7 linked regions of the Homo sapiens genome follow. The protein of the gene in region 1 interacts with the protein of each later gene in a pairwise test. Each region holds a gene or a part of one and is shown in the gene's direction. Other genes may lie near its edges. The genes, in order: MBIP, PECAM1, ING5, PLEKHF2, DIP2A, FXR2 and CCNC.

What was found.
Region 2: the proteins of MBIP (region 1) and PECAM1 interact in binary tests that used the Homo sapiens proteins (3 or more experiments, as listed by UniProt).
Region 3: the proteins of MBIP (region 1) and ING5 interact in binary tests that used the Homo sapiens proteins (3 or more experiments, as listed by UniProt).
Region 4: the proteins of MBIP (region 1) and PLEKHF2 interact in binary tests that used the Homo sapiens proteins (3 or more experiments, as listed by UniProt).
Region 5: the proteins of MBIP (region 1) and DIP2A interact in binary tests that used the Homo sapiens proteins (3 or more experiments, as listed by UniProt).
Region 6: the proteins of MBIP (region 1) and FXR2 interact in binary tests that used the Homo sapiens proteins (3 or more experiments, as listed by UniProt).
Region 7: the proteins of MBIP (region 1) and CCNC interact in binary tests that used the Homo sapiens proteins (3 or more experiments, as listed by UniProt).

The regions. Positions count from the first base shown.
Region 1 is NC_000014.9:36,309,960-36,314,374, reverse strand, and holds part of MBIP (MAP3K12-binding inhibitory protein 1), read left to right. Parts: intron 1-2,350; coding exon 2,351-2,416; intron 2,417-2,649; coding exon 2,650-2,802; intron 2,803-4,415. UniProt on the Homo sapiens protein: Inhibits the MAP3K12 activity to induce the activation of the JNK/SAPK pathway. Component of the ATAC complex, a complex with histone acetyltransferase activity on histones H3 and H4.
Region 2 is NC_000017.11:64,321,691-64,325,578, reverse strand, and holds part of PECAM1 (platelet endothelial cell adhesion molecule precursor), read left to right. Parts: intron 1-1,733; coding exon 1,734-1,763; 3' UTR 1,764-3,888. UniProt on the Homo sapiens protein: Cell adhesion molecule which is required for leukocyte transendothelial migration (TEM) under most inflammatory conditions.
Region 3 is NC_000002.12:241,718,479-241,722,893, forward strand, and holds part of ING5 (inhibitor of growth protein 5), read left to right. Parts: intron 1-1,004; coding exon of another isoform or gene 1,005-1,143; exon of another isoform or gene 1,144-1,497; coding exon of another isoform or gene 1,498-1,644; exon of another isoform or gene 1,645-3,329; intron 3,330-4,415. UniProt on the Homo sapiens protein: Component of the HBO1 complex, which specifically mediates acetylation of histone H3 at 'Lys-14' (H3K14ac) and, to a lower extent, acetylation of histone H4. Component of the MOZ/MORF complex which has a histone H3 acetyltransferase activity.
Region 4 is NC_000008.11:95,150,329-95,154,443, forward strand, and holds part of PLEKHF2 (pleckstrin homology domain-containing family F member 2), read left to right. Parts: intron 1-3,702; 5' UTR 3,703-3,716; coding exon 3,717-4,115. UniProt on the Homo sapiens protein: May play a role in early endosome fusion upstream of RAB5, hence regulating receptor trafficking and fluid-phase transport. Enhances cellular sensitivity to TNF-induced apoptosis.
Region 5 is NC_000021.9:46,552,369-46,556,783, forward strand, and holds part of DIP2A (disco-interacting protein 2 homolog A), read left to right. Parts: intron 1-1,800; coding exon 1,801-1,924; intron 1,925-2,206; coding exon 2,207-2,328; intron 2,329-2,453; coding exon 2,454-2,565; intron 2,566-3,613; coding exon 3,614-3,723; intron 3,724-4,034; coding exon of another isoform or gene 4,035-4,061; exon of another isoform or gene 4,062-4,415. UniProt on the Homo sapiens protein: Catalyzes the de novo synthesis of acetyl-CoA in vitro. Promotes acetylation of CTTN, possibly by providing the acetyl donor, ensuring correct dendritic spine morphology and synaptic transmission.
Region 6 is NC_000017.11:7,608,091-7,612,505, reverse strand, and holds part of FXR2 (RNA-binding protein FXR2), read left to right. Parts: intron 1-1,232; exon of another isoform or gene 1,233-1,325; intron 1,326-4,415. UniProt on the Homo sapiens protein: mRNA-binding protein that acts as a regulator of mRNAs translation and/or stability, and which is required for adult hippocampal neurogenesis. Specifically binds to AU-rich elements (AREs) in the 3'-UTR of target mRNAs.
Region 7 is NC_000006.12:99,557,973-99,562,387, reverse strand, and holds part of CCNC (cyclin-C), read left to right. Parts: intron 1-706; coding exon 707-791; intron 792-951; coding exon 952-1,021; intron 1,022-3,839; coding exon 3,840-3,891; intron 3,892-4,415. UniProt on the Homo sapiens protein: Component of the Mediator complex, a coactivator involved in regulated gene transcription of nearly all RNA polymerase II-dependent genes.

The DNA.
Region 1 (4,415 bases):
CAGTAGAGTTTCCTTCTGCTTAATAATAGACTATATTGCAAACTGGTTTTCATTTTGGTTACACAAAGTAAATGCTAACATTAAAAAGTGTTTATCACAGGTGAAGATTATTTTAAAGTTCCTTTAGGAAATGAAGGTGAGGTACGAGTGAGAAGGTTGATCTATCTCACTAGTAAAAGGAACTGAGCTCTATGAATTTCAAACCTATACATGTACTGTGAAATCATGATGTTAATACGTAAGTGAACTTAGTAAAGTTAATATTCCTCCAGAGGGAGCAGTTTTCTCACTACTCCTGAGCTGTTTGAAATGTCCTGTGTCACGATACAACCAATTTATCATGAAGACCATGGTGTCTTGCTTTTTTCCTTTCTGCCATAGTGCATACATTTGCTGTTTTTCATCTGATTCACCTTTACCTCTCTACTTGATGCTATAGTACATTTACAAATCTGCAAGTATGCTGCAGAATACAAAATATTGCAATGCAGTGCCATAGATTATACTCAGGCACCATAGTAATAATCAGAACAAGTAGTTCTTAGGAAAAATTATGGAGAAGAGTTCATAATTGGAATGAACATGTTTCTTGTTGCCTCTAATATCTCATGGCTAATTATTATGAACATAGAATTGTCAGATGAACCTAGAAATGACTCATATCACATTGGTACACTGATTCTCTTAATGAAATAATATAGGCTGGTATTGGGTCCTGAATTTAGCTGTGTGCTACTATTAACATTACACATGTGCATCTCTAAATTTGGTATATTTTCCTGTTAGCTTTTCAGAACAGGTGCAACAATGGCAAAATCTCAGGTACTACAACCAACTACAAGCGACTATGAGAAAGGGTTTGTTGAGAGAGCAAGCACATGTGTCACTAATGTTATTCCTCTGTTCTCCCTGCTAACTCTATTATTATAAACCACCAGGGGATAGAAATTGACGAGAATTGAAATGCTCAGCAGGATTCCTTGGCCCATTCAATTCTTTGCTGGCTCAAAACAGTGCTAGCAAGAATTGCTGTGGAGAGTGACTAGCAGTCATACACTCACACCATGCTGAATTTCTCACTGATGGTCAGTTAATCTATATGTTTGGAATATAGTTCTGGAATGGATGATAGCTTCTTTTTTTAACCCTTAGCCCCATGAAATGGTAGGAAGAGAATGGAGAAAGGATGGCCCTTTAAGCATATTTTGAGGTGCCTCCAAAAAAAAAAAAAAGGAGGAAAGATGTCTATTTAGTCTCTAGATATAAAAGCTAAGTGGATTTGGAATTTTATGCATACTATTTGATTTATCAACAGAACTACTAAGGAAAGTTCAACTGAAAAAAATACAAATGTATTTTAATATGTTAGTGTGTTCCTTTTAATACCTACAAATTTAACCTAACTATAAGCAGTGGAATTTTTAAAAATCAAATTTCATAGGGGGGAAAAAATAATTTTTTTTAAAGAATCTCATTTACCAGCCATTTTTTACAAAATATTCAGGGGAATTTTACAGGAGATTTACTGCCAATGTGTGGCCTTTAAACATTATTTCAAACATAAGTATATATTATTACTATGTAGTATCGTATGTTAATATATAACAATTATGTTAATTAGTTGTATTATATGTTAACATCTTTCCAATTTTCCCCTTTTGTAATTTATGCATTGATACTTAATTTGAAAGAAACTACTTTTCAGCTTGGAAAAAAATAGGGACAAATTTTCACAATAGACCTTTACTAAAATGAAACTTTTTTGAAAAGTGGTGGGATAAGAAGAAGTAGATGACTTTTGTGATGAAGGGTTTTTAAAATGAGCACTGGAAATCTAGGTAGAGTGGAAATGTATGTGTACTTGAGGTTTTGAGGTCATCTTTGTGTGGAGTTCTGAAATAAAAATGTTAAATAATTCTTTTTGTTGGATGTTCACTAATTTGGTCATTAAAATAAAAAATGCTGAATTAAAAGAATTCTAGTAAAAATGATGAGTTTTATTTCTACGATGAAGTAGAATTTAAATACTCTATGGTAGATTATTTTCTCCAGTGGCCCAAATAGTGACATTGGTTTTCAAAATTGTATCAATTTGTGCCACTTAATGTTGATGGCTTTTCTGTATATAAATCTGAACATTAGGTAAGAATATTAGATATTATGATAAATTTTGACAGGTAAAGAAGGTCACTAAATTCTATCCTATGTGTGATAGTAATTTATTGTTACTATTATTTATTAAAATTATTATGAGTAAAATGTTAATATGAATTATTGAAAGTTTATTAAAATCTCATACATTTGAAGGGAAGAATATATTTAAACTTATATTTATCTAAATTCTCCTTAGAAAATAGTTGTGCAAGAACTGATGCGATTTTTACCCCTTACCCCGGATTTAAAAGTCACGTAAAAGGTAAGTAACCACCACATGACATCTGAGTCACTGACAGAAGTCTAGATTATTAGCAAAATGGAATAGAAATAACTTTCCCATCTAAATTTTATTTTAAAACAAAAACATCTTGCCGTCCTTCATACTTGTGGTTAGATGGTCTTTATGAAAAAAATATAAAGTGCTGTTAAGGAATAAGAATTTCTGATTTTTGAAATACAAATGTATATAGGCTCAAAAGTTTCTTAATTTAGTTTCTAGAGTTGTGAATACATACGGACCACAGACTAGACCTGAAGGAATTCCAGGGTCAGGTCATAAACCTAACAGCATGCTTCGAGACTGTGGTAATCAGGCTGTAGAAGAACGACTACAAAATATTGAGGCCCACTTGCGGTTACAGACAGGTAAGCAAAGTGCTAAGTGGCACCTCATAATGAACCTTTGCAAATGGTTAAAAAATTGCAGTTCATTTAGTCACCAAATTTTCATTTAGCTCCTAACATTTCTTGAACAGTAAGTGCCAGTCACTCAGGAAGTGTTATGTGTATGTCAATTCACTTAAAAGGTCATAGTACCCTTTTGAGATGGTGGTGGTGTTATCACTGTACAGATAAATAAATTGAAGTTTAAAGAGCCCAAGCAAACATGCCTAAGATACTAAGTGACAACTCTAAAAAAAAAAGAAAAAAGAGATAGTCCAGTCTTGCCCAGGTTGTACTTGAACTCCTAGGCTCAAGTAATGCTCCTGCTTCAACCTCCTGTGTCAGTGGGACTACAATCATGTGTCACTACTGCACCCTGCTCAAACCCAAGTCCTCACTGGGTGCAGAGACTGAGTCTCCCTCTCCATTTAGTCACCATGTCTGTTGATTCTGTTTTCTAAATAAATATCTCTCAAATCTGCCCACTTCTGTCTTATCTCTACTGCTACTACTAGAGTTGAAGCCACTGTGATCTCTGGCTTGGACTGATGGAAGGATATTTACTGGTTTCTTTGCCACTGGACTCCTCTAGATCATCTCTACCCTGTGGCCAGATTGCTTTTTCTAAAGCTCAAATTTGATCTTGTTTCTTCCCAGCTAAAAATGTGGAGATTGGGATTGAAGGGGGTTTGTAATTTTAAATAGTATTGTCCACATCTGTAGTTCCAGCTACACCTCTGGGCTTCCCATCTCCCACTCGTTGTGCTGCTTTAGGATCTTTATACTCATGCCCTTCTGTCCATGCTTTTTCTTCCTAATCCTAGACCAGTGCAGATTCACCTTTTGTATAATCTTATATAGCACCTGGTATTCCCTGCTCCCCTTTAAAGCAGTTATCATGGTTCTGTTTGTTTAATGTCTGTCTCCTGCTAGATAGTCCGTGAGAGTGCAACTATGTCTGTCATATTCATTTCTTTGTACCTATTACAGTGCCTGGCACAAAGCAAGTGCTCAAATGTTTATTGAATGGACAGTTGCTTATTTCACCTTTGCAGATGTATGTACGGAGGGACAGAAAGTTAGTGTTTGACTCTCTCAGGGTAGGTCAAGGGATGATGGCATCCTAATGAAGTGACATTTGAGGCCTTGAAGGATTAGTAGGAATTTTCCAGAGCAAAGCATTCCAAAAAGAAGAAACACCATTTGCAAAAAAGGACAAAAACACAAAATATGGTTCAGGAGATATCTGAATCCAGTATAGCTGGAGTATACTAGCTATCTGAAGCTATGCTAGCCAGATGAAGGTAGAAGAAGAAAACAGAATGAGTAAGTCTTTGAGAGTAATAAGACACTGGCATTAAGAATTAATCTCTTCCCTCAGAAGTGGATGGGTTTAAAATGCCACTGTATAAAAGGATTGACTGGTTAAGTCTCTAATAATAGTATGAAACAGTTAAGTTTTTGGAAAAATATCTGTTGAATGTTTACTATGCTCCAAGCACTATTTTAGGCACAAGGGATACTGAGATGATATAATCATAGTCCCCAGCTTCAAGGACTTTATAATCCAAATGAGAGAAAGATTAATAGTGAAG
Region 2 (3,888 bases), on another chromosome or scaffold:
TTTTTGATAGAGATGGGGCTTCGCCATGTTGCCCAGGCTGTTCTGGAACTCCTAAACTCAGGGGATCCACCCACCTTGGCCTCCCAAAGTGCTGGGATTACAGGGATGAGCTACCATGCCCAGCCAGGAATCCTTTTTTTTAATTGTCATAAAATATACATAATATTAAATTTACCATTTTCTTTTTTTTTGAGACGGAGTCTTGCTCTGTCGCCCAGGTTGGAGTGCAGTGGCGCAATCTTGGCTCACTGCAAGCTCCGCCTCCCGGGTTCACGCCATTCTCCTGCCTCAGCCTCCCGAGTGGCTGGGACTACAGGCACACGCCACCACGCCCGGCTAATTTTTGTATTTTTCAGTAGAGACAAGGTTTCACTATGTTGGCCAGGCTGGTCTTGAACTCCTGACCTCATGATCCACCCGCCTCGGCCTCCCAAAGTGTTGGGATTACAGGCGTGAGCCACTGCGCCCGCCCGGCAAATTCACCATTTTCCAGTGTATACTTAACCATTTTAAAGTGTATAATTCAGTTGCATTAGGTCCGTTCACATTGCTGTGCAACCACCACCACTATCCATCTCCAGAGCTTTTTCTTTTTAAGTGAAAGCAAGTTTATTAGAGAAGTAAAGAAACAAAAGAATGGCTACTCCATAGGCAGAGCAGCCACTGAAACACTGTACCCATTAAACACTAACTCCCCATTGCCCCTCCAGCAACCCCTAGCAACCACTGTCTACTTTCTGTCTCTATGAATTTGACTATTTGAGGTACATCACATAAGTGGAATCATATATTTGTCCTTTCATGTCTGCCTTATTTCATTTAGCATAACGTTTTCAAGGTTTTCCTGTGTTGAAAATATATCAGAATTTCATTCTCTTTTTAAGGTAGAATCATATCATTTTAAAACATTTCAGTTGGACCATCTAAGTTCAGTCCTTCATTTTCAAAATTAAAAAACAGGCCTCAAACGGGTACATCTCACGTTAGCTAGAGACAGAACTGGAGCTAGAAGTCAGATCTCTTACAAAGTTGCCTTTCTTCTTCTGTGGGTAAGTGGGGCACCCTTGGGACGCTGTGCTGGGCGTACATGGGTGCTTGATGAAGTTACTTGGTGGACTGATGTGATTGATGTCCAACATGTATGCAGGGACAGAGGCTATGGTCCCTACAGAGCAGGCATGGAGAGAAGGAGAAATACATACGGGCAGGAGCCAGGAGAGGGAGGGTGTAGTGAGCAGAGACCGCGCCACTGCACTCCAGCCTGAGTGACAGAGTGAGAATCCATCTAAAAAAAATTGCTTGCTAAAGAAGTGGTCTCCTGAGGTCTTAAGACGTTCCTGACAATGTCTTGAGTGGGTGGGAGAGAGGCTGCAGTCATTGTGCTGTGGAATTTCAGAGGTGAGAACCACACCTAACCAAAATTACTTTCCCTGTTTGCCTCAGTGACACAGCTGCAGGAACCCTGGTGGGTGTTGTATTAAGTAAATTTGACCTTTATTCTTTGCAGATCTGTGAAATGTTGTCTTCTGAGGGGCCACGTGTATCTGTAGTGCTGAGGACTCCTTGGGCCTCTGAAGTCACAGAGAGAACCCTGCAGGGTGGGGGACCAGTGTGTGACAGCCCTGCTTTGCATTTTCTTTGAGAAGTGCTGTCATTTTGCATTTCTCTCCACCAGGGCAATCTTCAATCTTGAGAGGTGTGATCATAACTTGCCTTGTTTCTTGTCGCTACAGAGAACGGAAGGCTCCCTTGATGGAACTTAGACAGCAAGGCCAGATGCACATCCCTGGAAGGACATCCATGTTCCGAGAAGAACAGATAATCCCTGTATTTCAAGACCTCTGTGCACTTATTTATGAACCTGCCCTGCTCCCACAGAACACAGCAATTCCTCAGGCTAAGCTGCCGGTTCTTAAATCCATCCTGCTAAGTTAATGTTGGGTAGAAAGAGATACAGAGGGGCTGTTGAATTTCCCACATACCCTCCTTCCACCAAGTTGGAACATCCTTGGAAATTGGAAGAGCACAAGAGGAGATCCAGGGCAAGGCCATTGGGATATTCTGAAACTTGAATATTTTGTTTTGTGCAGAGATAAAGACCTTTTCCATGCACCCTCATACACAGAAACCAATTTTCTTTTTTATACTCAATCATTTCTAGCGCATGGCCTGGTTAGAGGCTGGTTTTTTCTCTTTTCCTTTGGTCCTTCAAAGGCTTGTAGTTTTGGCTAGTCCTTGTTCTTTGGAAATACACAGTGCTGACCAGACAGCCTCCCCCTGTCCCCTCTATGACCTCGCCCTCCACAAATGGGAAAACCAGACTACTTGGGAGCACCGCCTGTGAAATACCAACCTGAAGACACCGTTCATTCAGGCAACGCACAAAACAGAAAATGAAGGTGGAACAAGCACAGATGTTCTTCAACTGTTTTTGTCTACACTCTTTCTCTTTTCCTCTACCATGCTGAAGGCTGAAAGACAGGAAGATGGTGCCATCAGCAAATATTATTCTTAATTGAAAACTTGAAATGTGTATGTTTCTTACTAATTTTTAAAAATGTATTCCTTGCCAGGGCAGGCAAGGTGGCTCACGCCTGTAATCCCAGCACTTCAGGAGGCTGAGGTGGGCGGATCACCTGAGGTCAGGAGTTTGAGACCAGCCTGATGAAACCCTGTCTCTACTAAAAATACAAGAATTAGCCGGGCGTGGTGGCGCATGCCTGTAGTATCAGCTACTCAAGAGGCTGAGGTGAGATTATCGCTTGAACCCAGGAAACGGAGGTTGTAGTGAGCGGAGATCGCGCCACTGCACTCCAGCCTGAGTGACAGAGTGAGAATCCATCTCAAAAAAAACAAAAAACAAAATTGCTTGCTAAAGAAGTGGTCTCCTGAGGTCTTAAGACATTCCTGACAGTGTCTTGAGTGGGTGGGAGAGAGGCTGCTGTCATTGCGCTGTGGAATTTCACAGATGAGAACCACGCCTAGCCAAAATCACTTTTCCTGTTTGCCTCAGTGACACAGCTGCAGGGACCCTCGTGGATGTTGTATTAAATAAATTTGACCTTTGCTCTTTGCAGATCTGTGAAATGTTGTCTTCTGAGGGGCCACATGCATCTATAGTGCTGAGGACTCCTTGGGCCTCTGAAGTCACAGAGAGAACCGAGCAGGTCTATGTTTTTGTTTTGTTGTTTTGAGACGGAGATTCGCTCTTGTTGCCCGGGCTGGACTGCAGCGGCGCAACCTCTGCTCACTGCAACCTCCGCCTCCTGGGTTCAAGCAGTTCTCCTGTCTCAGCCTCCCGAGTAGCTGGGATTACAGGCACATGTCACCACGCCTGGCTAATTTTTGTATTTTTAGTAGAGATGGGGTTTCACCACGTTGGCCAGGCTGATCTCGAATGCCTGACCTTTGGTGATCTGCCCGCCTTGTCCTCATGTGTGCTCCACAGGCCTTTGGGTTGGGATTGCAGGCGTGAGCCACCATGCCCAGCCTAGACTCTTTTGACAATATGATGAAAGCTGTTGGTTCCTTTCCCCAACACACACACACCGAGTTGTATCACGAAAATGTCATACAATTTCCAGGTTTTCTGAGTGGTGGGCTCAGATTGAGGTCAAAGGATCAGACGACCTCTAACGACCTTCATGTCTCTGTTGATGATCTGGGGACAGCCAGATCCCCTGTGTCCAGGGAGTTCCTTAGTCCCTTGCCACCACCAGAGAAGGGCAATTGCCACGGGAGCTGCAAAGACCCTATTCCTACTCCTGGTGCCTTACTTATGCAGCACGACTGAATTTTTTGTTTTGTTTTGTTTTGTTGAGACAGGGGCTTGCTCTGTTGCCCAGGCTGGAGTGCAGTGGCACAACAATGGCTCACCGCAGCCTCGAA
Region 3 (4,415 bases), on another chromosome or scaffold:
CAATCTTGGCTCACTGCAAGCTCCGCCTCCCAAGTTCAAGCGATTCTCTGCCTCAGCCTCCCAAGTAGCTGGAATTACAGGCACGTGCCACCATGACTGGCTAATTTTGTATTTTTAGTATAGACAGGGTTTCACCGTGTTATGCAGGCTGGTCTCGAACTCCTGGCCTCAGGTGGATCTGCCTGTTTTTGGCCTCCCGATGTGCTGGGATTACAGGCGTGAGCTGCTGTGCCCGGCCCTAAGTTAGTTTTAATCTCCTTTAATACATTTTTCATTTAAGAGATTGTAGGGCTGGGTGCTTTGGCTCATGCCTGTAATCTCAGCACTTTGGAAGGCTGAGGTGGGAGGGTCACTTGAGTAGCCGGGATCACAGGCATGTGCCACCATTCCTTGGTAACCAGCTTTTAAAAAAACATAATCAGTCCTATTTCCCTGCTGAGGGTACATGTCTCATGATTTATTAGCTGTCTGACTTTAGATATAAAGGAAGCGTGGAGAGGGAAATTTCTGTTCTCCCCAGGAGGTGTTCGTTCTGTTTTAGTCCAGGCCAATAGGGCTGGGGGCCTGGGGCGGGGCAGGGTCTCAGCTTCAGCTCCACCGAGGCCCCTTGAGGACCTTGAGGTTTCCTCTCTCGCCTCCTGCCCCAGCGGCTTCCACAGTTGGTAGAAGTGCGGGGGAGGAGACCAGCGGTGCCCGAGCAGACCCCTTGCTCGAGAACTCCGAGGTTGCAGGGATTTTCCCTCTGCTTTTAGTTGCTCTGTGCAGCCTCTGGACTATAAATGTCGGTGGGGACGCGGCCGCCATGTGTGGCTGTGTGGGCTCAGCGTGGCCCAGTGGCCAGCCCAGCCCTCACTCAGTGCATGAGGCAGGCGGACGCCGCCCCCAACCCCCCAACACCCCCCACTCTGGCTGCAGGTCATCTAGCTCTTGTTGCTCCACAGCTCCCCGACATCTTTGAGAATGTGGTTTTTGTGACTTGCTGGGTTTTGTGTTTTCTAACTCAGTGGCAACAGCGTTCTGAGTCTTCCTGCTCCTTCCTGCTCGGAACCTGAAGGCCCTGTCCCGACCGTGCCTTTTCTGCGTGAAAGTGGGACTCCTCCTGGTCTCTTCCTCACCCAGTGCTGTTTCTCAAGGGTATGCTAGGCATAAGGAATGCAGGCACTGGGGGTCCTCGTGGGGGTGAAGGAGACTCCAGCTCCCTGTTGGGGTCGGGGCTTCCTCCCTGAGGGCTCTGCCCAGCTTCAGAGACCTCAGGAACAGCCAGCACCTCTGCAAACACAGGAAGATCCACTGTGGCCTCATGGCTTTTCCTGTCCTGACAGTGCGCTGACCAGCACTGTTTAGTAGCAATGCGGAGCCTGGGAGCTCAGCGCTGCCTGCCGTGCAGGTCCCAGTAGTGACAGATGAGAAGGGTGATCACCGATGGCGACAGTTGCGGGGCCCTGCGGCTCTGGATCTAGCTTGTGTGTGAATCTCTTTCTTCTCTGTGCCCCCAAGTGGCAGTGCTGCTCCTGTCCCATTGCAAGACGTCGAGACAGGCTGGTAAGGCCAGCTCTGAAGCTGGGCTCTGACGTCCAAGGCGCCAAGGAGGCCCCTTCCAGAGGGACAGGAGGATGGTGCAGGTGGGCAGACGGGTCATCCTGAGGACCAGTCGGTTGGACCCAAAGCCTGGCCTGCCGGGGCGGGAGTGTGCACTCGGGTGCCTCCAAGGGCATCATCCTGGGTGTGTGCAGGAGCCCGCCTGCCCCTGGGCTCTGGAGTTCTGTGGTGCGCGTCCCTGACCCATCAGCACAGTGGGTATTCACGCCCCTCGTGGTCACGCTGTGGTGCCAGGCCGCTCTGCCTCAAGGCAGGTCCTGTTCCCTGCTGGGGACCCAGGCGCACGCACCATCCTGTCCCTGTGGACTGCCCTCTTCAGGCCTGTTCCCCACGTGCCCGGGGCTCTTCCTGGAATGCAGTGTTCCTAGACTGCACAGATGCTCCGTGTCTCGTCTGAGATCCCGTGACCTGAGGCTGCCCCCTGCACTGTTGCTGCCCTGTGGCCTTGCTCTGGCGAGGCAGAACCTGTGTGTGTGGATGAAGGGCAGTGTCACCTGTAGCACCTGGAATCCCGGGGCTTGGACAGGCAGCCAGCCCCCTGCTAGGAGCCACGTGGAGTGCTGGGAAGCCATCGGGGCCGGGCGCGGAAGGGCTCGCTGGCACCGTCTGGCGAGGGGTGCCTGCCACACCCTGGGGAGTTAGCACAGAGGGTGCCTCTTGTGGCAGTGGTGCTGAAGGGAGTCAGCAGCCGCTGACAGTTGGGGTCACCCTGGCCTGTGCAAGGGACAGGGCTCCCCATGGCCTCCTGGTTGCCTCCCTCAGGGCTGATAGCAGCACTCCCTGGCCACACGCCATGGCGCTCCCTCAGGCGAGACTGAGAGGCCAGTGAGGCCTGCACGGTGGCCTCAGCTTCTGGGGTGCCCTTGCTGGGCGGTCCCCTCAGGCCCCCGGCCCTCTCCCACAGCCATCAAATCTGGCCAGCGCCCTCGAACCTGGTGATGCTGAGACACAGGTCAAGTGGCAGCTCAAGATGTCAGGTCGGGCTTTGTGGACAGAATTGGACTCGGCGCAGAAGAGGAGGGCGTCAGCGTTTCGGGGACGGTTGGCAGCAGAGGGTGCTGCCCTGCTCTCCGCGGGTGAGAGGTGACTCGAGGAGACCGCAGGAGCCCCTTGGAGGTGAAGCCACAGGTGGCATCCCGGAATCGGCAGGAGGCTGAGACGTAGACCCTTGCGTGCTGCTGTCAGAGGAGAGACCCGAAGACTACTTGAGACTGTTGCTTGAAAGCAGTGTCGGCAGCACCTGGACCTGGACTTGTGACGCTGATGGATTTCAGCTCTAAAGAGAAACCCCTGTCTATTCCCAGACAGAGAGAAAGAGCAGAAGAGCAGATTACCTGCAAAGGACAGACTTAGGTGGGCGCCCCTGTGCCAGAGGGCAGCGGGGAGGCCGGGTGCATGCTGAGCCCGAGTGTGTGTGTATGTGTACAGGCAATTGCAAAGGCGTAGAAAAGCTTTAGACAGGTATCCAAGGAAAAGCTGAGTGTTGATTCCCTCTGGGACCCAGACTTCTGCTCCTTGGCTTTCCCTGATCGTGACTGTTTTTCTCACGGCCACGTTCCTCCTGCTAACCTGCTGTGTTTACATACCAACTAGATATTCGTGGGTTGGAGGGTGGGATAGGGAAGATACTTTTTCTTTCTGTACTAATGGGAATACACTGTCTATAGTACCTGCAGCTTGTAAGTTTATTTGAAAAATACTGAAATATAAAAGCGTAAATTTCCCCCTAAGTGCATCCCTTTCAAACAGGAAAGTCTCCACCTGAGGTCTGTGGTCCTGGTGGGACGGCCATGGTGCTACAGGTGGCAGGCTTGGAGGGAGGCATAGACGGGGTGGAACACCTGCCAGGCTGCTGTGTAGAAACCCACGTGGGAGCTGATGGGGATGAAGGAGTGACAAGGATGGTGTGTGGTCGGAAGGGGCCCTGTGCCAGGTGGACAGCTGGGTGGGTGGTGGGCGGTCCAGGGAGTGTGTGGGGAGCTGCTGGTTGAGTCAGTATTGGGGCAGAGGTGCCTGAGTAGGTGCGTGGAGGGCCCGGGCGCAGGACGCATGGCTGTTCTCTTGGGAGGAGGTCACAGTTACGGGAGAGCTGTTGACTGTGCGGGCTGCTCTGACACCTGTCAGTCTGGAGTGGGAGGCTGGCAGGCTTCTCTCAGGTGTCAGCCGTCTGCTGGCAGAGGTGACGTGTGCTTGTTTCCAAAGGGGCCGGGGTCTTTGGAGGGATGGCCCAGAAGTGGGTTGAGTCCAGAGGTCCCCGGGGGAGTCCTGTCTGGGAGGAGGGACCGAGATGAGAGTGGACTCGTCCCCAGAGTGGGACCAGAACCCCGGTGCTGTGGGTGAGTGCTGCGCTTCACGGCCTCCTGGGGGCCCTCTGTGCCCCCATGCCCCTGCCTGGGCCCGAAGGTGGGCGCGAGGTCTCCACCCCTCTGCTGCCAGCTGCTGCTGTTCCTGGATTTTTGTGGGTAACTGTTCTTTCTAGCATCAGCTGACAATCTGTTCGTATACTTAATGATTTTCTTGCTGCGCCTTCTTAGAACATTGCGTGTTCAGAGGGGTTATTGAGGTTTTGAAAATGTGTGCTCCAGGAAGAAAACGTCCACAAGGTGTGTATTCAGTTAGTGCATGACTGCAGTGGCTGGCCCTGGAGTCGCATTCATTTCTAAAGGACAATGGGAAAAATGGAAGCAAGCTTATTCATTATGTGTCGCTCAGAGCACGGTACCAATTTCCCCCTTGGAATGATTGTCTTCACAGTTTTGGGGTGAGGGGGCCTTAAGTCAGAGACAGAAGGGCCCGTGGTGTCCGTGCCGCCTCAC
Region 4 (4,115 bases), on another chromosome or scaffold:
AGGCCTTAGGTTTTGTGCATGCCCATAGTTTTTCAGATATATGTCACAACCCACCAATCAATCAAGTGGGCTGCCAGAATCATTAAAATAAATGAAGATAAAAGAATGCATCATTCATTGTTGAAATAATTATACGAGTGTTTGTAACCTTGCAATATAAAATGTGTTTATGTTGGTCATTGTCAAACTTTGAAAGCTATTTGCTTTGCTGCAGCCAAATACTAATTAATAATGCCCCAAACCTTGCTTAAGTTGCATCATTATTAAACAGGGAGAAAGATTTATGAACAAAGATTTAGACTTAATATATTGAAACATTTGGACAATGAAAGATTATCAAGACACCAGCTGGGTAAATCATGACATATCCATCCTTTCAGGTGATTTGTTCAAGGTAGTATTCCCTTATCTTCAGTATTTTTAGGGTTTGCAATGAAGGTCCAGAGGTTAGTTAATAGCTTCCTTAGAGTTCTTGTAGATTCAGTGGAGTTCTTAGGAACAATTAGTGTACCATAACATACTGTAACATCACAGAGAAATCAGATTTGAGGCTTGTTCTGCTGTGACAGCCTTGGGCAAGTTATTTAACCCCTCTTTGGCTGTTTACTCATCCATAAAATGGAGCTAATAGTGCATGTATCATAAGGTTGCTGTGAGGAGGAAATACAGTAATAAGTGCAAAGTGCTCAGCACATTGGTTGGACTCCCTATGAGTAGAGTTCATTCCAGGTTAAGTTTTGCTTTTACATTATTAAATATCTTTGTGCCTTAATTTCTTCATCAGCTCACAGTTCAGCTAATATTATTAGATGCTTCTTTGGGGGACAATAAAAACTTCTCTAGTAACTTCATAGGCATTTCAAACAGTTCAAATCAGAAAATAATATGAAAAGCACAGTACAAATTTATGATAGTATTAATTCTCATAGTAGCAATAATAGGAAATCTGTTTGTGTTGTATATGAGTTAATAACGATATGTTCAAATGGGTGGACTCAGTAGTTGATTCAGGTGGAGAGAAATAGATCCTTTCAGTTTTTTTTTTAAAGTGCCAATGTCTTTTCCTGTTTTAGGGCCTTTGCAGTTACTCCTTTTGTCTGGAATATTCTCCCCTATCCTTACCCCTTCTTATGTCTGTCCATCTAGTACAGCTGAAATGACAACATTGTAGAAAGGCCTTTCCTGACCATGTAGTCTGAATAGCTCTCAGTTTCTTTTAAAAATCACTTTAAAAAAAAAATCATAGCATTGATTAGTACTAGATTTCAATTTTGTTTTCTCTTTCCTTCTCTCCAACTAGAATGTAAACCCTGAAGAGCAGGGACCTTGCCTGTATTGTTTAATTTATTATTTTTTAAAATTTTTATCTGTTGTCACATACTCAAGTATGATCGCCTGTGGTGTTTATTTTTACTTTTCCTGCACCTAGATCCTAAGTGCCTGACAAATACTTGTGGAATGCTTGAATATAATGTAAAGTATGAAAAAATGATCCATAATTATACTTTCCAGAGATAAATTACCATTGTTGATAGTATAGTATATATTTTTTAACTTTATGTTGTGTGTGTGCTTACAGATACAGATGTCTATGATTATGCTTTTGAAATATGTATTCCATTGAGTCTAAAGATAAACATTTTTTACTATATGTATTTGAAATTGGTCTTATAATCAACGGTATGCTGTGGTTTAATTGGCAACATTTTTCTCTTTATGAGTTGCACATAAATATGTCTTAAAATCTATAGCACCTTAGATGTGATGAAATGTGGTATTTATTTGAAATAAAAATGAGATCAGGAAGTTCATCTCTTTTCCCCACCTAAAGATCTTGAGCATTTCCCTTGTCACTGGTTTTAGATCTGTCTTATTCTCAAGATATATGATTAAGGGTGTGTCATAACTTTTTCAATCAGTTCCTCTTGATGGCTATTTGGAGCTTTTCCAATTGTTTTCCTGTTATAAACAATGCTGTGCTGATTATCCTTGTATATATCTCTATGCACGTGAGTGAAATTTATTTAATTAGATTGGTGAATACACATATTCTCTGTAGTGTACAAGGGTACCTATTTCCCTATACCTTTATGAGTACTGAATCTTAGTAAATTTAAAAATTTTTATTAATCTAAGTGAAAAATATACTAATGTTTAATATAATTTCTTTAATTATGATAGAGATTGAAACCTCTTTTCCTGTTTATTAGCCGTTTTTATTTCCTTTTCTGTGATGTACTTGTGCATAGGATAGTAGGCTTTTAATTGGCTGGCATATTAGTCCTAATTAGAAACCTTTCCAGTTTGGAACCATGCATTATCCTATTAATTCTTGGGAACAACTTTTAGGCCTGCTACATCCTACTTTTGTGGAGGACAAGAGGGCTTTATAAGGACCCAAGATTTGCAGGGAGACAGAATTCAGAAATAACCAGAATTCTAGTGTCCTTTATAATGAAGGCCAAGAAGGGCTATAGTGTCAGTTTTTGAGCTGAATACTGGAACTTACATACTATGCTGTTAGTCTTTAAACTTTAAATGGTCTTCTTCTCAAGGCTTGTTGTTCTTTAATATGACTTGGTTATAGTATAGTAGTATTAGTTTAGTAGGTTTGAAATAGGATACAACTCTGGGACTTGAGTGAAGTCAATATTGGACTTAGAGATTAAATGTTTAGATTAATAGGGTGTTTTGCACATTGTTAAAATGTTATTAACATTTTTTAGTACCTTTTCTGTGTCAAACCGTATCAGTTTCAAACAAAACTATCAGATGATCTCTGCTTTTTAGGTTCTGCATGGTCTCTGGAGGAACAGATTTCAGTCCTTTGGTAAAAGTGAAGCTAGAATATACATGGAATATGGATAGCTCACAGGAAGGGTTTTAGTCTAGCATGGGAGTTTAAAGGAGGCTTCCTGGAGGAGACACGATTACCTAAACTAAGTCTCGAAGGATGAATATGAGTTAGCTGCAGTAGTAAGTAGTAAAAGGAACAACAGTGAAATGGACTACAAGTAGTAGAGTGTTCTTAGAATATGACATTTGAGGTGAAGACTGACTTATGGTGAGGTTGGAGTGACAAGAACCAAGTAATGAAAGGCCGTGAACACCCTGTATTTAATAGGTTAAGGGATCATTTTGAGCAATGATGGGGTCAAATTAGGGTTTTAGAGATCACTGCCCAAAGATTGATTTGGGGGCAAGATTGAAGGCCAGGACACATGTTGGGAAACAGTTCTAGTAATCCAGGTGAGAGAATTAAGGCTGTAGCTCAGTGGTAATAGCTTACTTGGAAAATTGTAGTCATTTTTCTTAGTTTATGTAACATTTTGTTCCCTATTGTTCAGAATCCCATTGAGATTACATTTCATTGAATGGGGTTTATTATTTTGCAGAGATAAGTTATGTTAATTATCCAATCGTCTTTCATTCAATTATGTCTGTAGGAAGTTTATACTTTTACAAATACCTGCTTAACTAGTATGGTGCTACGTGGAGATGATAAATAAGTGTTTTTCATCATTTTAAAAATTGAGAAATGTTAGCCCTTTTGATGTGCTTAGTGATTATCTTAGAGGGAAAGAATTTTAGAACATTTTGCCTTTGTGTAAAAGCAATGATTTGTTAGCTTAATTTATATATAATTAACTTATAGGAATTTATAATTTATATGTGCTAATTTCTTTTTCTTTTTTTTAAAAGGCTATTAGTGAAAGATGGTGGATCGCTTGGCAAACAGTGAAGCAAATACTAGACGTATAAGTATAGTGGAAAACTGTTTTGGAGCAGCTGGTCAACCTTTAACTATACCTGGACGAGTTCTTATTGGAGAAGGAGTATTGACTAAGTTGTGCAGGAAAAAGCCCAAAGCAAGGCAGTTTTTCTTGTTTAATGATATTCTTGTATATGGCAATATTGTCATCCAGAAGAAAAAATATAACAAACAACATATTATTCCCCTGGAAAATGTCACTATTGATTCCATCAAAGATGAGGGAGACTTAAGGAATGGATGGCTAATCAAGACACCAACTAAATCTTTTGCAGTTTATGCTGCCACTGCTACGGAGAAATCAGAATGGATGAATCATATAAATAAATGTGTTACTGATTTA
Region 5 (4,415 bases), on another chromosome or scaffold:
TCTCATGTGTTTCAAGTTCCTGTTGTGTGCATTCCACTGTGCTAGGAACATTCAGGATGTCAAGAAGGAGAAGCTGTAATCTTCATATTCAGGTTGTGGGCAGGAATGCGAAATGCGGAAACACAGAAAGTTAAATAACTTAAAACCCTGCAAGGCTTCCTGTCCCACGCACCATACAAGCTGTAAGAACTCTTAAGCTTTGGTGTCGTAAAGAGTAGGTCACTGTGGCTTAGAATATGCTCTTCTAGCTCTTGGTGCTGCTCATTCGAATTAAAAAAATACTTAATGATGCCTACAATGTGCACAGTGCACAGTAATAAGATTAAAAGGACCCCTACTCTCAGGAGGCTTAAAATCAGTCTTTCCTGCTAGAAAACAAGTTCCGTAGGAGAGAGACTTTGTTTTTCTGGTGTATTGGAAGCATCTAGAACCATGCCCAGTAAACATTTATTTTATGATTGATTGAGTTCTAAAGCCTACAAACCAGCCAGTGATTTATCATTGACCAAGGTAAAATCAGCTTATGGTGTGAACCTCAGTATCAATACAGTGGAGTGATGTAACCTGGAGTGCTGGGGAGGGGGCTTTGAATGGAACTGGGTAGCAGGGGCTATGAAGAATGATGCCCAGTGGCTCAAGGCAGGAAAGGAGGCCAGTGTGGTGGGGGCCAGGTGGTCCCAGGTAGGGGATGCAGATAAGGCTGGGGGTCGCTGGGTTTTCCCTAAGGATGCAGTGGGATCCCAGACCTTGCGGGCTTTGAGTCCCAGTCCAGATCTCAGGTTCTGTCCTGATGGGGCCCTGACTCATATGGACTGGCAAAGCTTCCGGGATTTGGAATCTCAGGATCTGCCCAGCCCTTGTGCCTGGACACAGCACATAAGTGCGTCCACTGGTCTCTCTCTTCCACTGCCTTCTGTCAGTAGAAGCCACCAATCGAGAAACAGGGAGTTTTGATGTTACACTGGTCTGCTCTGGAGTTTTATATTTATTAGACTGAATTGCACTTTTTATCTTCTTAAGAAGGACTAAAAAAGCTGCGAGGCCTGGCAGGGGATCAGGGAGGATGAGTGTCCTGAGCAGAGAGGTAGGGTTACCAGGTATTTCTGTTTGCCTTGAACTGGTCACATAGCCCCAGTGCCCCTCAGCAGAGAGACAGGGTGAATGAAGGAGCTGGTGTAGTCAGTCCTAGAGGAGACACACAGATGCCTCTGAGAAAGCCGGTTGCAGATGACACACGCCCAGGCTCAGTGCAGGTGACCTGTGGGCATGGAAAGTAGTACAATTCAGGGATGTTTGCTTATCGCTTATTATGTATTTATAATGGTGTCGTATGGAATATTTTATTGAAAAGGCCAGAAAGGTCTTCTTTACCCACGTGTTTCTGGCTCTGCCCTGGGTGAATGGAGTGCCCGCATCTCTCCCTCTTAGCTGGGACCACACAGGAGATACTTGCATGCCTGTCCCTTCACTGCTAGTGAGAGAGTACAGATGGTGAGAAAAGACACCAGTCGTGGACCATGTGCGGTGGCTTATGCCTGTAATCCCAGCACTTTGAGAGGCTGAGGCGGGCAGATCACTTGAGGTCAGGAGTTCGAGACCAGCCTGGCCAACATGGTGAAACCCCATCTCTACCAAAAAAAAGACACCAGCCGTACGTCTAGGACTGACACATTGTCATTATCATGGACGCTAATCACAAGGTGTCGTGTGCAGTGGCGTGCAGGTGGTGTGCACGCAGATCTGCGAACAGCCCACCTGCACGCACCAGCATACAGATGAGCTCAAAGATCGCTTTCCTAGGGCACCGTCACAAGCACTGCAACCTGTGTCCAGCTGCACAAAAGGGCTGAGAGAGTGGCCGCGGCTCTGATGGAGAAGGGAAGACTGAGTGTTGGGGACCATGTGGCTCTGGTCTACCCACCAGGTGGGCTCACTGTGGGGCTGTCCACCTGCAGCTCTTTGTAAGCAGCCTCCTATCCTAAGCAGCCCCCTAGACACTCCCTCCCCGAAGCATCTTCCAAAACTAAGCTCAGCCCCTCCTCTCTGCATGTGTCTGCCTCCTCAGCTCAGCTACCCCTGTGGAAACCCAGGAGTCACCCATGCCCCCCCAGCACCACCTCCCCTCCTCTCTCGCAGGAACAGTGAACAGAGGCTGGTGGGAGCCTCTTGCGGCCGGCCTCCTCACAGCCAGTCCTTGTCTCCACAGGGGTGGACCTCATTGCCGCGTTCTATGGCTGCTTGTACTGTGGCTGCGTGCCTGTCACCGTGCGGCCCCCGCACCCTCAGAACCTCGGCACCACACTGCCCACCGTCAAGATGATCGTGGAGGTGCGCCTACCTGGCCCGCGGGTCAGAGTCTGTGAGTGGGAGGCTGCAAGGCTGCCCTCCGCTGCCCCCTTTTCTGGGCAGCTTGAGAGGCCCCGCCCACCCACCCTTGGCCCCTCGCCATGCAGGTCAGCAAGTCTGCATGCGTCCTCACCACGCAGGCTGTCACACGGCTGCTCAGGTCCAAGGAGGCTGCTGCTGCCGTGGACATCAGGACCTGGCCCACCATCCTAGACACAGGTGCGTGTCCTCGCACTGCCCAGGACCAGTCCCTTTTCCTTTCTTTGTTGTAGGTGTGGTGTGGCCTGGCTGCCGTCCAAAAACACACGTGAGGCAAGAGCAGTCCTGGCAGGAGCCTGGCTGACAGCAGGGGGTGCCCCGGGCCCTGGTGGGGAGTAGGGGTCCCTGTCCCATGTGTAAACCCACGCTCCACTCAGCCCACAGCAGCCGCACCCAGTCCCAAGTGGTGTGGAGCACAGCCTTGCCCCTCTCACCCGCCTCCTACTGGCATGGGGGCTGGCAGCTCTCTGAGGCTTTCTGCAAACGCTTTGAGGACACAGCTCCCACCGCATGCCGCCACTCCAGCATCCCTGTCCCCATCATTGGTGAATGCTGTCATGCCCCATGAAATGCTGAGGGCCAACAGGGTGAGGGTCAGAAACCCCCCTGGCTCCCCTCTGCCGTGGACCTGTCTCAGCCTGGGCTGGATGGGGCTGGGCCAGGGCAGCTGGTGTAGGGGAGGGCAGGCTCAGAGCCAAACAGCTGGCCAGGGCCCCAAAGCCTCACGGGCTTGCCTCAAGGGGAGCGGTGCCTGCCCTGCTGAGCCTGTGTCCAGTTGCACCCAGGGAGGCAGTGGTGTCTGGCTCATGGGGCCACGAGAACTTGATGAAGCACGCAGAACCCAGAGCCCGTCCACAGCTATTCTTGCTGTGGTCGGGACTCGGCTCATCTGGGCTTTGCCATAGGCTCTGTGACTTTTGGCAAATCCCTAGTCCTCTAATCTTTCCTACTGGTCAGTGACGTGATGCCTCCCCTCTTCGCCCTGCCTCGTCCCCCATCCCCACAGGCTCAGTGTGGTCTTGGTGGGACCGGGTAGCGTTTCCATGAAGAATGAAATACGCTTTCCTGAGCACGCACAGCCTGCATCGTCACGGCCCCACTCCCGTCTGAGCTCACTCTCTGCAGGACTCCCAAGGACAAATCATGTGTCGCCTCTTGCCTGTGAAAGCCCAGAGCGTTCAGAATACATGTGGGAACACTAATGTTGCTGGTGTCTCCTGTTTAACAGATGACATCCCAAAAAAGAAGATAGCAAGCGTTTTCAGGCCCCCCTCCCCCGATGTCCTCGCATACTTGGACTTCAGCGTGTCAACCACTGGGATATTAGCGGGAGTGAAGGTAGGTCCTCTGAAATCTTGTTTGCTTCAGCCCCTAGAAATCAGGAGGAGTGGACAGAAAGGATGTCAGATGCAGATTTAAACTGACAGGTCCTTCTTATGCAAAGCACAAAGCAACAATTTTGCTTCTTAAGATTTGTGTTAAATACCAATAAATGCTAAGATGTGATTAGCCTGAGAGTAATGCGTTTTCTGATGCATTATGGTTATGTCTAAACTTTCTGATTTATGACTGTCTAGCTTACAGGAACTGGTGGCTTTGAAGAATCTCTTACCTTGCTGGGAGTCAATAGCTCAATTAAAATTTTTCAGGCGGGGCGTGGTGGCTCACGCCTGTAATCCCAGCACTTCGGGAGGCCGAGGCGGGTGGATCACAAGATCAAGAGATGGAGACCATCCTGGCCAACGTGGTGAAACCCCGTCTCTACTAAAAATACAAAAAATTAGCTGGGCATGGTGGCAGGTGCCTCTAATCCCAGATACTCAGGAGGCTGAGGCAGGAGAATTGCTTGAACCCGGGAGGCAGAGGTTGCAGTGAGCCGAGATTGTGCCATTGCACTCCAGCCTGGGCGACAGAGCAAGACTCTGCCTCAAAAAAAAAAAAAAGAAAAAAATTTTAAAAATTCATTACCCTGAAATTTTGTTTCAAAGATTTTTAGTGTACCATTTCTTGGGTATTATTTAGGTTATATG
Region 6 (4,415 bases), on another chromosome or scaffold:
TGATCTCTTTTTGTCATTTTGTGCATACTTGCCTAACTCTTGGGACTTTTTCTTCTAGCCTGCCTCCATAGCATTTCTGTTTTCTTTGGCAAAAGTCTCTAATTCCTTTCTGCTTTTGATAGAGCACATTTGTCTCTCATATCCTTTTCCCCAAACTTGCATTACCTTTGTTGAAATAGCTTCCTAAAGTGGCCCTCCCTGTTTACCTTGGTATCTTTTCCTTCATCTGGGTCCTTACCACCCCCAAATTCTGAGTTCCAAGAAAAGTGATTCTTAAGTTGAGTCCAAGATCAAGATATGATGTTTGCTTTGTTCTAGGAAGCGTAGGAGCCCTGCACAGCTGAGAAAGATTGGTATCCAGTTCAAATGAACTGTATGAGATGGCTGGGAAGGGACACGTTTTCTGTCCCACATATAAGTGTCCAGCAGAAAGTCTCTCTGAATCTTTTCCCTTTCTCCTGTGTGCTGTGGCAGTGATAGACTTGAATAGATGGGGACCAGGATACTGTGATTCAGAGAGTAGAGTTTGGGGTTGAGCTGAAAGCCAGGTAATGTGGTAATGTGGATCTGGGCAGGTTAGCATTTTCTGCCCTGTTCCTGAGTTAAAAACCACAAATCCCTAAATTCAGGCTAATCTTCCACTCTCAGTACCCTACAGATACTTATCCGTTTTGACCTTGCTGCTGATTTAATATTCATGACTCAGCAAACTTGGGATGGGTCAGGGAGTATTTACACTGCTTCTGGAATTGTACATTTGGGAAGGTCCCTTTCTCCTCTCTCAGAATTGGGCCCTGTTGTCAGTTTTCTTTTCTTTCTTTTCCTTTTTTTTTTATTTGAGACAGGGTCTCCCTCTGTCATCCAGGCTGGAGTACAGTGGCGTGATGTCGTCTCACTGCAGCCTCCGCCTCCCAGGTTCAAGTGATTCTTGTGCCTCAGCCTCCCGAGTAGCTGGGATTACAGGTGTGCAACACCATGCCTGGCTAATTTTTGTATTTTCAGTAGAGACGGGGTTTCGCTATGTTGGCCAGGCTGGTTTCTGACTCCTGACTTCAAGAGATTCGCCCGCCTTGGCCTCCCAAGGTGCTGGGATTACAGGCGTGAGCCACCACGCCCTCCCGTCAGTTTTCTTAAAGGATAAAATATTAGATCTGGGATCTAAGTTATTTTGTAGCTATCTGAAAATTAAGTTTGTCAGAATTTACTCTTTTTTTCCGTCCTTTTTTTTTTCATGTCAGACTGGCATCCGTAACAAGGGTTGAGGGAGGCATACCTCACCGTGAGCTTGAAACCGCAGTCATCATGCTTAAGACGTACAAAATGGCTTAAGACGTACAAAATGGCCTAATGTATTTTATTCTTTAAGTTGTACTCTCCCAAATGAAGTATTCACCGTCCAGGGCGCAATCTTCCTACTCCAAACCTCATCTGGATATCCTAATCCCCATTCCTTTCTTAATCAACATGGCATCCTCAGCTTCAGTACTTGGTTTTTACTCAGACTGTTCCTGCTCTTCTCCTAGAACCCCCTCCTTTGCTTTGGGAGTCTAGAACTAGAAGACGGTGAAGGTGGGGACCAATTTTATATCTTCTAATTTGAGGAAACCAAAGTACCTAGGAACCTGGGGCTCTCTCTTCCTCTGCTGGCTTGGTGCCAGGCTCCAGAAGCCAAAGCCAGGTGATGCTATGGCCACTGAATCAAGTTATCCTCTGGATCTAGGTGGCTCCCTAATACATTCCACCCACCTGCTCTTGCCTTCACCTGCTTATTTTCACAATGAGCGTAGACTGAGCAGAACTTGGGGCTCACTTCCACCACAGATACCCTTGGAGAAAAAAACTAGTATGGGATGAATGGGTGGAATTTAGGAGCAGAGACAGGATTGGAATATGAAGTTGGGGACAGAGCTAGTTTTGGAGACTAATTGAAGGAAAAAGACCCTGGAAATATAAGGGTTGAGTGAGATTTGGTTGAACTGCTGAGTAATGTGAGAGATTACTCCATTCTGAGCTTTGCATTTCTGCCTTGGAAGTCATGGTAGCTGGGAAAACTAGGGTAATATTGCTGCTCACCCTGGGGCCAAGCCTAACATGGTGGAGGAGAATTGGATTACACCATAGGCATAGCCGATTTGAATATATCTAGGAGTAGAAATCTCTCCACAAAAGCAGTAAATTAGTGATTCTCATCTCTGTCTCTTTTCCACTTCTTTCTGTCAGTGTAACTCCTGCCTTGATAAACTACTTCTAAGGCTTGGAGTAGACATTTTGGGTAAAGAACTGGATAAAGTCAGCGGAAGAGGCTGGTTGGAATAATTCTAGAAATCCAGACGACCCTGCAGCCTCTGCCTCCTGGCTTCAAGTGATTCTCATATCTCAGCCACCCTGAATAGCTGAGGTTACAGCCATGTGCCACCACGCCTGGCTAATTTATATATATGTGTGTGTGTGTGTGTGTATATATATACATACATGTATACATATACATGTATATATATATGTATACATATACATGTATATATATATGTATACATATACATGTATATATATGTATACATATACATGTATATATATACATATACATGTATATATACATATATATGTATGTGTATATATATGTATATGTATACATATATATATAGTAGCAATGGGGTTTTGCCATATTGGCCAGACTGGTCTCGAACTCCTGGCCTCAGCTGATCTACCGACCTCGGCCTCCAAGTGTTGGGATTACAGGGAAAAGAAGAGGGAATGGATAAAATATTAGTGGTTGTGGGAGTGGGGAGGACACTTGAGCAGGAGCTAAGGGAAGAACCCAAAAGGGAAGAGAGACCCAGGCAAGTAGAAGTAAAAGTGCCTCAGAAGACTTGAATGGAGAACAGTAGGAGTTGGCATTAAACCTGAATGAACATGCTCATAACTCAGGTTCTTTTTGAAAAAGGAAAAAAATCTGAATGAAGAGTAGAAAAAACATTTCTGGAGAAGAGAATGTCAGAGAAAGAAAAAGCATGGGTAAAAAAGAGGCCAGGAAGTACCAGTAGTAATTAAAGCCTTGGGCAGTAGTAAGGCTCTAAGAAAGAACATTCAGTCAAGAATGATCTTGACTGACTGCAGCCTCTATAGCAAGACATATCCCTAAAGACGAGAAAGGTGGCTTGTATGAAGAGTGAAATGCAGGCTTAGATTTTCCCATCGTAAGGAAATAGCAATCTGGTAAGTGTTTGTGATTGATTAGTTCTATGAGGTGGGAGCTGTGCATTTGCCAAGGGCATTTTTGGTGTTTTCTCTCCTAAGCTTAGCCTTTGTCCCTAGCAGCAAAGCTCATGAATAGTTCTTGTGTATTAGCCTTTTGAAACCTCTAATTCTTTTATTTTTGTTTATTTATTTTGTTTTTTGAGTCACGGTCTTGCTGTGTTGCCCAAGCTATGGAGTGCAGTGGTGCAATCACAGCTCATCACAGCCTCGACCTCCCTGGCTCAAGTGATCCTCCCACCTTAGCCTCCTAAATAGCTGGGACTACAGGCACAAGCCATCATACCCTGCTAATTTATAAATTTTTTGCAGAGATGAGGTTTCCCTGTGTTGTATGGGCTCTCTAATTTTTTTAAAAAACATCTTTATTGAGCTGAAATTGACATACAACAAAGTAGACATATTTAAAGTGTGCCATTTGTTAAGTTTTGACATGTATGTAACTGAGTCCATCACTGCAATCAAAGGAATGAACATTTCTGTCACTCCCAAAAGTCCTCCATCAACTACCAATCTTCTGTCATTATACATTAAATTGCCCTTCCTGATTTTCGATAGAAATGAAAAGGCAGTTCAATTCAGCTAAGAAAGGATAGTCTTGTCTTTTCTTTTCTTCTTTTCTTCTTTTTTTTTTTTTGAGGCAGAGTTTGCCCTGTTGTCCAGGCTGCAGTGCGATGGCATGATCTTGACTGACTGCAGTCTCTAACTCCTGGCTTCAAGTGATTTTCATGCCTCAGCCACCCTGAATAACTGAGGTTACAGCCATGTGCCACCACGCCTGGCTAATTTATATATTATTATTATTATTATTTTTTTTTTTTTTTAGTAGCAATGGGATTTTGCCATATTGGCCAGACTAGTCTCGAACTCATGGCCTCAGCTGATCTGCCAGCCTCGGCCTCCCAGTGTTGGGATTACAGGCGTGTGCTACCGCCCCTGGCCAGAAAGGATAGTCTTCAACAGACAGTGCTGGAACAAGATATCTTTAGGTAAAAAATGGGCTGGGCACAGTGGTCACACCTGTAATTCCAACATTCTTGGAGGCTAAGGCGGGTGCATTGCTTGAGTCCAGGAGTTCAAGACCAGCCTGGGCAACATAGCGAAACCCTGTCTCTATTAAAAAAAAATTTTAATTTAAAAATATATTAAAAATAAAAAAAAGT
Region 7 (4,415 bases), on another chromosome or scaffold:
TTTTTTTTGAGGATTCGTTATGGATTTTTATGTATTATTTATTTATTTTGGTGAGCTGTATAAAGCTAAGTGTGGTGGCTCACACCTGTAATCTTAGCACTTTGGGAGGCAGAGGTGGGCAGATCACTTGAGGCCAGGAATTTGAGATGAGCCTGGCCAACATGGTGAAATTCCCTCTCTACTAAAAATACAAAAATTAGCTGGGCGTGGTGAGGCACAAGAATCACTTGAACCTGGGAGGTGGAGATTACAGTGAGCCAAGATCGTGCTACTGCATTCCAGCCTGGGCGACAGAACGAGACTCTGTCTCAAAACAACAAAAAAAGTGGTAGTATTAACAAGTTTCATAGGTGTCTAATATTTTCTTTTTATATTTATTATAAAGATACTATGAAAAGCATTAAAAATATTTAGAAGATAGAGGGGAAATATTTATTCAACTTCCTTAATGGATGAATAATTTTTTCCTGTGGGGCAATTTCTGTTTTGTTGTTGTTTTGTTGTTGTTTATGCATACCTATATATTTCTTAACACATTTGCAAATCCTAGAATTAGACCACTGTGACTCACATAGAGCATGTGTAGGTTTTTTCCTTTGTTAAAAATGAACATAATTATGATTTAACCACATGGAAGTTACTGTTCAATGTTAATATTATAATGATACCAGAAGATACATTTAAAATTTCATTATTTGCCTTTTAGTTATCCAAGCATTAGGTGAACATCTTAAATTAAGACAACAAGTTATTGCCACTGCTACGGTATATTTCAAGAGATTCTATGCCAGGTAGGATTGTTTTTATTTTATTTATTTGAACTCTTATCTAATGTTGATGAACCTTAGCACAGTGTAAATGAATCATGTGTCTACCATAGAGTTATCTTGATTTTTTTCCCAGTGTGTTTTCTGTATGAATGATATTTAACTTTGTTTTATCATATTTTAGGTATTCTCTGAAAAGTATAGATCCTGTATTAATGGCTCCTACATGTGTGTTTTTGGCATCCAAAGTAGAGGTATAAAACAATTTTCTGTTCTTCATCAAAGTGTAGTCAATGTATGTTGGTTAATCTGCCCCAGTTTTCACATGGCCTATGTAAAATTAATAAATGGTAATTTATGCAAAATACTAAAATTGTACAAAATCAAAGAAATATATACATATCCTTATATATTCACTTAACAGACACATACAGCACTTACTGTGTACCAACTGACTTAATCTTTGTAACAAACTGGAATACATAGTAGTAGTATTCCCATTTTATAAATGAGGAAACTGAGACAGAGATGAAGAACTTGCTTAAGATGATATAGCTAGTAAGTGTGAGAGCCCGTGTTTGAACCATGGGAGTCTCGTTACCAATCCTGTGTTCTTAACTACTTTCCTCTGCTGCCTTTGAGACATCTATTGTTTGGCACTGAGTAGTATTCAGTAAGTACCACAGCTTGCCTACCATAACCTGAGAATGTCCCTTATGCTTCTCACCCATATGCTTATCTTCTCCTGTCTTCCCTCCCATCATCCTGATGATTGGCTGCCTACCAAGCCAGAAGGAAGGCAAGGATTAGGGGAAGCTATAGCTATATAGAGTCTAACAAGTAAAAGTTGAGGTTGTGAGCGTAGAGAAATTAGGTAAGGGAGAGAAGATAGATAGGAACTTGCGGCAGAGACTGAATTTCTGTTCAACTGTTTTACCTTTGTAGTATTTTTGAAAGAGCTCAGCTAAAGTCCAGAAAATAATAGCAGATATTGGCTGTTTTTCATAAATAATGTAGTCTTTGGTGGTGTGAAATCTTTGCATTATGTTTCTATTTTTGGATAATGTCTTAGAGTTCTATTCTTAGAGTTGTATTCTTGAATATTGAATGTGATTTTTACCTAGTAAGTTTACATTCCTTTTGGCACCCACTTTGATTTAGTTTTGTTTTAGCCATGATTTAAGGTTATCCATGACATCTTTCCCAACTGTTACCTAAATAATGACAATTGACTCTGTTAGAAATAATATTAAGACAAGCTTTCTAGAAGTTTATGTTTTCTAATTGTGAGTGGTAGTTTAAGAAGGCAGAATCAGTTAAGGTCCTTATTATGGATTGAGTTTTCTAATTCTAATAATTCTATGTAATATTTGATTTTATTTAAATATTACCATGTAATAATTTAAAGTCTCTTAAGCACAGGCAGTATGGAGGACCAAGACAAAAAATCTTTATAAACATTTAATCTTGTAGATTAATTTGAGGATTTTAATCTATCTTACTTGTTAAATATTGTTATGTGATTTACTGAGTAGAACTCTGTGATGTGATTTACTGAATGAAAGTTTTCCCTTTGAGTTTTGGATAAAGAATTATTCCTAGGCCGGGTGTAGTGGCTCACACCTGTAATCCCAGCACTTTGGGAGGCTCAGGCGGGTGGATCACCTGAGGTCAGGAGTTTGAGACCAGCCTAACCAACATGGCAAAACCCCGTCTCTACTAAAAATACAAAAATTAGCCGGATGTGGTGGCAGATGCCTGTAATCCCAGCTACTAGGGAGGCCGAAGCATGAGAATTGCTTGAACCCATGAGGTGGAGGTTGCAGTGAGCCAAGACTATGCCACTGTACTCCAGCCTGGGTGACAGAGCAAGATTGCATCTCAAAAAAAAAAAAAAAAAGAATTATTCCTGAGAAAGAGAATGTAGTCTTTCAGATTTGGTCGTAGCATTATTATTATTTTTTTTTTATCTCTGTGACCAAATCTTTCTGTATTTTCTCTAGTTTTATGGAAATTGTATGGAAAGCTCATTTAAGAACATGTCTCAGGCTTTTACTTTTTCTTTTCAGTTATTATAGTTGGAGGTTTAAATGTAAAACAAATATATTAGTACACATACATTTCCCCTACACAGGATAAGGATGTAGGCTGAAGGTATTTAAATAGATTTTTAGTTTAGCTCCTTTTGTTGGATAAGAAACCAACTCTTGATTTTTTTATTTTAAAATGAAGTGAAGGCTTTAGAAATCTTACGAGGCAATAAATGAAACAGTATATATAAGGTGGATCATAATAAATTTTAGTATTTTCACAATGGTGGTTGTTCAGTTGAAAGAGGAAATGGGAACTGACTTTGGAAGTCTTACGTAATTCCTGTCTCCCTGTTCTAAAAAGGATAGTAACTATTTATATGGTTTTTTTTTTTTTTTAGTTCTTTTGGTGATTAATTAAGGTTTATCTTATTCACAAATTCAACTGTTTTACCATAGAATGGCATGAAGTATCTGTTAATACAGGTTGAATTGAATAGGAAACATACTTAATATTCTTGCAATTAAGTATAGAATGTAAACAATCTTCTTGGAAACTAATTTAAATGGAAAAACTGACACTGTAACCTTAAGGCTTGGTTTCTAATTTGGTACCTTTTATTGTTATTAAATTATAAAATTATTTTAAAATATGTCTTAAGTTGTAGCAATTTGGGGGAGAGGTAATACAGGCAGAATATCCGTAATCTGAAAATCCTAAATGCTCCAAAATTTGAAACGTTTTGAGGGCCAACATGACATTCAAAGGAATGCTCATTGGAACATTTTGCATTTCAGATTTTTAGATTAGGGATGCTCAACCAGTGTAATGCAAAATATTCCTAAATCAGAAAAATCTCTGATCCTAAGCATGTCAGATAAGGGGTAATCAGCCTGTACATTTAGGAGTGTAAGTACTTCACACCTCAAGTAGTTAGAAGGTGAACAGATTGTAAACAGGAGCAAGGAAATCCTGTTTTGAATAGAGTTCAGATACCCTTAGATTCATTGGGTTAACATGTACCTGCTTTTCTTTCTTTAGGAATTTGGAGTAGTTTCAAATACAAGATTGATTGCTGCTGCTACTTCTGTATGTAAGTGCAAAAAGTATATCTGCTTTAAGGATGTAATTCTAAAGAAAGCTCCAGAGTACATAGATTTTTTTTTTTTTAGTTTATGAGACATATGAGATTGGTTGGCTTTATTAAATTTCCTGAGGATAACTTTATATCTAGTGTATCTGGCAAAAAAATCAAGCTAAAAGGTTTTTTTTTAAAAAGATATAAAGATATTACTTTTAATGTTAAAATGGATAGTAATTATCAATCCAAAAACATCAACTCAGTGGCTTTTAATCTTGTAAGAGTAAAGAAAAAATTCTGTTTCCGAATTTTATTGTATTTTATTGTTTTCTAATGACTATTATGTCATTCTTATGGGTAGATATTAATATCTATGTGCAAACCCGTTCCTGTGTTGTTGGGTTGTTATGAGGACCAAATGAGTTAATATAAGCTTTTAGAACAGTGCCTTGCTTAGTATGTTACTTTGCTGAGGCTGCCATAACAAAATGCCACAGAACAGGTGGCTTAAACAACAGAAGCGTATTTTCTCACAG